Linked DNA regions of Homo sapiens. The protein of the gene in region 2 interacts with the protein of the main gene of each other region in a pairwise test. Each region holds a gene or a part of one and is shown on either strand. Other genes may lie near its edges.

Region 1 (3,829 bases), on a different chromosome or scaffold from region 2:
ATTTACAAAAGCAGGAAGTAGGCTGGATTTGGCACAAGGGTTATAGTTTGTTGACCCGAGGTGGATGGTTCCAAATGAGCTCTGAGCTCTGTGCTGATAGCCTAGCCCATGCTAATGGCCACATTTACAGGGGAGGGCAGCGAGCAAGGCTGCAAATCCCACACTGAGCACTGGGACCTTGCTGACAATGGGAATTAGAAGCCTCAGACAAATGGATCAATGCAACCCCCTATCAACAGAAACACCAGGGCTCAGGGTTTAGTAACACCAGTCATCATCTCTGTTCCAATGGACAGAATCAGTACATGTGATGCAGTGAGCATGATGAAATAGGACTCCTTGGTTTCCTTATTTACAACAGTCTCCAGCCTACCTTTGTAGGGCATCTGAGAACGAGTCTTCAGGTACATTTTGCTGCTTCTTTTGGCTCTGACTTTATTGATCTCATAGCCCAGATTGTTGCAGCGGTTCTTTCTACAACTCAAGCAGAGCCCTTTCTCAAAGGCTTCCTTGGAACTGCACCTGTAGGCCTTACTTGGATTTTCTTCATTCAACAGAGAGTCGATGAAGAGATGAATGGAGCGCTCGTGGGAGCACTTCACTAGCTGGTCCACATCTGGGTAAAAAAGAGACACCAAGATTGTATCTCGGCAGAAATTCACAAAGAGTGTTTCATTTGGCATGTCTAAAATAGGTGAGATGTGGTGTTAGAGTAGAATCACCCAAGGATATAGTCCTGTGCATTTATGATTGTAGGCCCTATTTCAGGAGATATTCTTGGTGGTAGCGGCCCACCCACCTTCAAGAGAGTGAAAGTTGCAAGTTCACAGGGAATTTTTGACTTTTGTGCTTCTTATATTTATGAGTATGTTTATGAAGCTGTAATAAGCCTCCAAGGTGGAGGTTGATTTCCTTGTTTATCTCATCCTTCTCTTACATTGAAAGTGTCTAACACTTCTAGGTGCTTCTAGAAACATATACCTGCCCCTTGCCTTACAATAAATTCTTCATAAGTCAAAAATACTGTAAGTCAAAATGCACTTAATACCCCCAAAACCCATCATAATGTCAAAAAGTTTTAAGTCAAACCATCACGTGCTTCTCAACTTAAAATGGTGTTACAGCCCAATTGTAAAGTTGGAAAACTGTAAGTTAGGGACAATTTGTATTTCTAGAAACCACATCTTAAGAGGGTAATTGTTAAATGAATTGTATTTTATCATTGATATTATGTACAATTGAGGGTTCTGCCCCTACTAACACTCTTTTATATCAAATGAACATAGAAATAATCAGCAATGCCATAAGAATGAATTCCTTGTAAGTTTTTAGGACAATCGAAAATAGTAACAATATGCTCTAAGTTCTATTACGTGCACAAAAATAACGAGAATATCCTAGGTAGGTCCCAATGTCTATAAAGTATGCAAGGGGCTCTTAAAAATAAATCGTAAACTGGGCGTGGTGGCTCACAGCTGCAATCCCAGAACTTTGGGAGGCTGAGGCAGGAGGATCACTTGAGGCCAGGAGTTTGAGACCAGCCTGGGCAACATTGCAAGTCCCTGTGATTGTGTGACTGCACCCCAGCTTGGGCAATAGAATAAGACTCTATCTCAAAAAACAAACAAACAAAAATCATAAATTTAACACAAGCTAACATTATTAAAGTAAAACATTAAGCTAACATTATGTTCTGAACATTTTGGAAGATTTATCCTAATTAACATCTTCTGTTCCAGTAACATCTAAAATCTTTCCATTGGCTTTGCAGCTACATTCAAGGTATGACAACATGTGGCCAGATAGCATTTTATGATGCCATTATTGAGGTCAGTGGAGTCTTCCTGTCTAAAATCCCACCTTTTTCTCTTGCTACTGTAAGTGCACTGCTCAGTGTAGCCTACAGTATAGTAAATAAAAGATAAAATGGCTGTCTGCCTGGCTCTAAGGTGGTCATGCTGAACATTGCAGAATTCTTCAGAAACATAATTTGGCCAAATGTGTATATGAAAACTACATACTTTGAAGCTACTGAGTAGGACATTGGGTCAATAAGGGTTAAGGATAAGAGTCACATTTAATTCGCTTCTAAATAATATTTACCTCCAAGTCCTCTCTCTGCAATCACGCGGATAGCTTCTCCAATGTTACATCCTGGCTGAAAAGTACCTCCATTCGGGTAAATGTCAACATGCCCAACTGGTTTCTGGATTCCAATGCTTCGACCAGGGGACCCTCTGGTGAATGTGTGTAAGACGTCTACAAAATCTGCATCATCAGGAGAAAGACGACTCGGGGCTTCTGCATACTCAAAGTTAGGTCCAGCTGGATCGAGGCCTTAAAAGGGAAAAAAGCAGGAACACAGATTTGTAAATTTCCATTCGTATGACATTCGCATGTCACTGCTCATCATTTGAATGCACTGGCAGCTATTTAGATTCTTATTAGCTCCTATTCTACAGTCATGGTATCTTTACTTAGAGAGACATAAAAGGAGGCTTGGCTCCTTCTAAAATGAATTTGAGTCTCTTAAACTAGCCTTATGCAGCAGTTTCCACTCAGGATGGCTGGATTTCCTTTTGTAGATTATTTCTGAATATGTCGAGAAGATGTATAAACAGTGGTGGGTTCTTTCTCTCTGTGTGTATGCCACACCTTTGCCTAGATGACGGTCTTCTTTCGAAGTGGCCTCTGGAATTGGTCCTTCTTCTTTTCTCCTAGTACTGATGTGCATTTACACTACTAAAACACAGAGCTGAGAGTGGGAGGAAACAGGCTTCCCAGAGAAATCTGCAGGCATTGTGTGTAATTATGCTTTATTTCTGTGCTATTGCCAGTGGATAGTAAGCCAGTGAGAGCGTCTGTGTTTTTTCTTATCCCTAATAAAGAGCCCTACAATGAGATAATCAAGTGCTGGTCATGTCTCCGGGAAGAACACCACACATGTGGGTATTTAACAAAATTTGTTCTGATTCTCTCTCAGAATGACAGTCTTTTCACCTCTTATGATAAGACCAACGAAATTGCTTTCTTACCAGTAATTCTGTTGACTTTCTTATTGGTCAGACTTCCTGCAATGCCAGCAGCATGGGCTCCAAGGCTGTATCCCAAGAGATGGACATTGTCCAGAGGGTAGTTAAACTCCTCCTTTGGAAGAAAAAGAAAATGAAGGTGCTTACAGTTCTGCCAAAAATAAAACTAAAAGAAACAAAATGAATATAAATATTGTTTTCCAAATATAGGAAATACTGAAAACTAATTCTACTTATTTTAATTTTGTGTTACAGGTAAGAGAGAGAAAATATTCTCTAGTGTTAAAATTGTCTTTTTCTTTTGTTTCACTTTTCCGTAAACAAATCCAGAATTGATTTTCTCTTTCTTTAATAGCAGATTTAAATTACAAAGTTTTTCCATGCATCTGAAATAGTATTATTTATGTATATAATATATGCATATGTTTGTATATGTATATGTATTTGCATATATAACCATATACTATACGTACAAACATATACACATATACATATGCGTATACATTTATATGCATGCATATATGTATATGTGTGTATGTTTGAATGTATAGTATATGGGTATATATTTTCCCATTATTCCTTACTCTAAATATCTGTATCACTTTATCATTGAAGGTTAGCCAAGCAATGACAGACTCAGGAAACATTCAGTGGAAGGGACCAGAGGTACATGGTCCAGCCCCTCATTTAACAGGTGAGAAGCCTGAGCCCCAGGGAGGTGATCCCGTTTGCCCATGTTCATTTGCCTGGTCAGCAAAAAAGACAAGAAAAGAACTTTTGTCTTTTATGATCAGTCT
Region 2 (3,829 bases):
GACACACACACACACACACACACACACACACACACGCGCGCACATGCGCATACACCAGTGAAATGGGGGAGGCAGCGGGTAAAGGGAGGGAAAAAGAGAGAGAAAGAGGAAGGTGACTTAAGAATTCTTAAGTTTACCTTAAGCTTACTTTAGGATTTGATATTTATTTCTGATTCCATAGTGGATGCCAAGGGTGAGTAGGAACCATAAACTTTCTAATACTTACAGTCTCTAAAACAGTGGTTTTCCCAATCCTTTTCCCAACTTGGCAACAAAGAAAATAATAATTTCTTAGCACGTTGGGATAAGCCACAAATGCTATTCAAAGCCAAAAGAAACCATCCTGGGGCAGGGTGGGGAGGGGGATCTGATATGCCCAGGTCCCATTAAACAAGGGTATCTTGCTCTCCGAAACACTGGTAAACCATTCATGGCACACCAGTTGGGAAGCTCTATTTTAAAGGTCTTAAAATGATCCCACTCATTGCCCAAACACAAGGACCCTCACAAGACTTCATTTCCCACTGCAATCAACGCACATGCGCGCGCGCACACACACACACACACACAGATTCACACACAGGAACAGACAACCACACCCACCCAGACAGAGACAGACATATCCAACAAGACAACTTACATTTCTCCAAACACACCACACATTCTTTCATACTTTGACTTTTTCTATATGCTGTTCTCTCTACCCAGATCAATTCCAAATGATCCTCCAAGACCATATTCAAATGCCACTTCTTTTCCCCAGATCTTATTACACTGTCACTATGAATTGTTAATTGTTTGTTGACATGTGTTACCACCCTAGAATTTGAGCTCAAGGACAAGAATCATGTCTTATTTACCTTTATACCACTGCTCCCACTACAATGGGCATTTCAAATGTTTGCTTAACATATAAAGGAATGTTCATTACATCATCACCAAATAAATTTTCAAATTACATTAATTAAAACAATGAAATACAATTATAAAATTAGCATTTTTTTCTTCCCAAAACAAGAACAACCACTGTAGGTACTTCTGTAAGAGAGAGATCTGGCACAGAAATATTCATGACACTTGACCATTATCCCAGTCCTAGGGTTTTAAACTGAGGAAATAAACAAAAAACCGCTTAACAAAATGTAAATGTCTAAATCAGTTATGGTATATCACCTGAATGTTTAACTAATCACTTAAATTATATTCATTGACCTTGGTGGCTTTGGGTAGCTAAAATAAATAAATAATATTCATGAAGATGGGAATAGAAAAATGAAAAAATAATACCAACTATCACTGACTGATCATCTCTTGTATTTAAAGCACAGCGCTAGATGCCTTACATATAGTATCTTAATCCCCACAATTCAAGACCACCTGACTCAGAAATGAGACACTTTGCCCAAGGCTTTTGACGCTAGATTCCACACCAGATTTGACTCCTGACTCAGAAATCAGACAGTTTGCCCGAGGTTTTTGACGCTAGATTCCACACCAGATTTGACTCCAAAGTCTGTGATCTTTCCCCTACATTGCACAGCCTCCACCATACAATGTTCCCATTATATTCCTCTCAAAATTCTCTCTACCACACAACTTTATTTTTTAAATATGAACAATTACCTGGAAAGAAACAAAAAATAGCTATTATGGTGGTGATCAAGGGTAAACGTTGTTACAGTATTTATCCTTTTTAAAAATTAGCAACTTTTAAAAGTAGCATTGTTGAAAAATGAACTAAATTCATAAGACAATACAAAAGACGCTATTCCTATTTTAATTTTTTTAACCTAAGAAAATTAAGGAAACAGAGTAGGTAACATAAAAACTTAAGAAAAAAAAAAAGCTTAAGAAGATATTAAACTATATCTAAACAAGCATATATTAACCTTAGGGTACTTATTACCAGGATTCATTAACTGATCCTTGTGAGTGGATTAAGCAGCATTCTTCCAGAAACAGGTGAATTTTGAAAAAGGTTTAAAGAGGAGGCACATGAATTGGAGACAGAGATGTTTAAATTATGGAAACGAGGACAAAGGAAAAAACAAGACTATTTTCTTTTTAAGCACGAATGAGAAACAAGGTTAATGAGATGAAGTTGGTAGAAAGTCTTCAAGGTCAAGCAGGTAAATTTGGGATTAATTTGATAAGCACCGGGGAACTCCTATATATTTTTAAACGGGAAGGTGGCATGTTAAAATATGGCCTTTAAAGATTCAAACTTTGTTCCATCATAAAGTACTGCCTTGAGTTACACAATGTTTTTGCCGAACAGTTGGGGAGGTGGGGAATAATCCACTATCCTTTATGTGTGCTTTATACATACGCTTCTCAAAAAGAGAAACTGACTAAACAGAAATCTTTAGGTAATGGGTGAGCATATTGGGGAGGGGATCCTTTCAGACATAATGCTTGTGAATATTGAATGCTACTGTATGTTTTAATAACAGTCACAGAACTTCAGGCAAGAAGGAACCTTGGAGATAATCTCTTAGTGGCGACCCCTTCATTTTCACACCAGATTAGACTGAAGCCCAGAACTAAACAACTTGCCCAATGCCATGCATAAACCAGTGGAAGATTAAATACTACAACTCAGATTTTCTAAGCAGTCAGACCTAAAGCTATGCTCTCCAATACTATAGCTACTAGCCACATCTGGCTATAAATTTAAATTGATTTAAATTAAATACAATTTTAAATTGAGTTTCTCAGACACACTCGTCACATTTTAAGTGCTCCATAGCCACACATGATTAATGGCTACCATAACTAACAGTGCAAAAAATATTTCTATGATATTTGTCAATTATACTTCAATAAAGTTGAAGGAAAAAAGAATATTTCCATCATTGCAGAAAGTTTAATTGGACAGAACCGATCTAAAGAATAAGTTTTAGAGAATTCCACTTACTAGAAGTATGAGCCTAGACAAGTTATTTCATTTCCCTTAGCTTCTATTTGGCAGGGAGAGGACAGGGGATTAATAATACCTACCTCATAAAGCATACTTGGTGAGTGGGACAACATGAAAAGCCCCTTATACAGGATCTGACACTTAACAGACAATAAATATTAACACTCTTCCCCTCTGGGTCCTTTTTTCTTTCTACTACTCTATATAACCTCCTTGTTAAAAAATACAAACACAATAACCAACCCAAATTGATATTTTCCTCATGATAGTCTATACGATGTAATTTTCATTTTGTTCTTACTAATTAATTCAAATACTTGCATCTCTCTTCCAAAGTTTCTACTTAAGAATAATGAAATGAAGAATGAATGTGAGGGAAGATATCTCTAATGAAATGAAAGAGTCTAATAAATTTCCCCTCCTCTTTTTCCCCATTCATGCAAAAGATAAGAAATTATGCTGTTCCTAGACAATGGTACTTTCATATCAATAAAGAAGATTCTACGGTATTTCTACATTATATCCTATCTCATCATCTATACTACTCATTAAATATTAAATGAAGAGATAACACCTCCTTCCTACAGTGCTTTCCTGGCAAACAATAAAAAGGATTTTCAGAATGCTAAGCCAAACTTCAAGGCTTCACAGCTTATTCTAGTAAACTGGCAAATTTAACAAATCTGGATTATAGTACATAAAAAACTTCATAACATGCAATAACCCAGGAAAACAACAAAATTCAACTCAGTTAGTAAACTTCTACCAATAACTAAATTTTACATAGGAGCAACAATTCATATTTAGCCACAATAACCATTCCTAGGGAGTTGATCAATTTTGCATTCTAACTAAGAATTTAGGCAAAACTTTAAAACATTTGCCCCTAAACATACACCAAACAAGATT

Evidence for each region.
Region 1: the proteins of PTPN4 (region 2) and LPL interact in a two-hybrid assay, tested with the Homo sapiens proteins (one large-scale study listed by BioGRID and IntAct).

The regions. Positions count from the first base shown.
Region 1 is NC_000008.11:19,952,628-19,956,456, reverse strand, and holds part of LPL (lipoprotein lipase precursor), read right to left. Parts: intron 3,148-3,829; coding exon 3,036-3,147; intron 2,338-3,035; coding exon 2,104-2,337; intron 617-2,103; coding exon 374-616; intron 1-373. UniProt on the Homo sapiens protein: Key enzyme in triglyceride metabolism.
Region 2 is NC_000002.12:119,762,656-119,766,484, reverse strand, and holds part of PTPN4 (tyrosine-protein phosphatase non-receptor type 4), read right to left. Parts: intron 1-3,829. UniProt on the Homo sapiens protein: Phosphatase that plays a role in immunity, learning, synaptic plasticity or cell homeostasis. Regulates neuronal cell homeostasis by protecting neurons against apoptosis.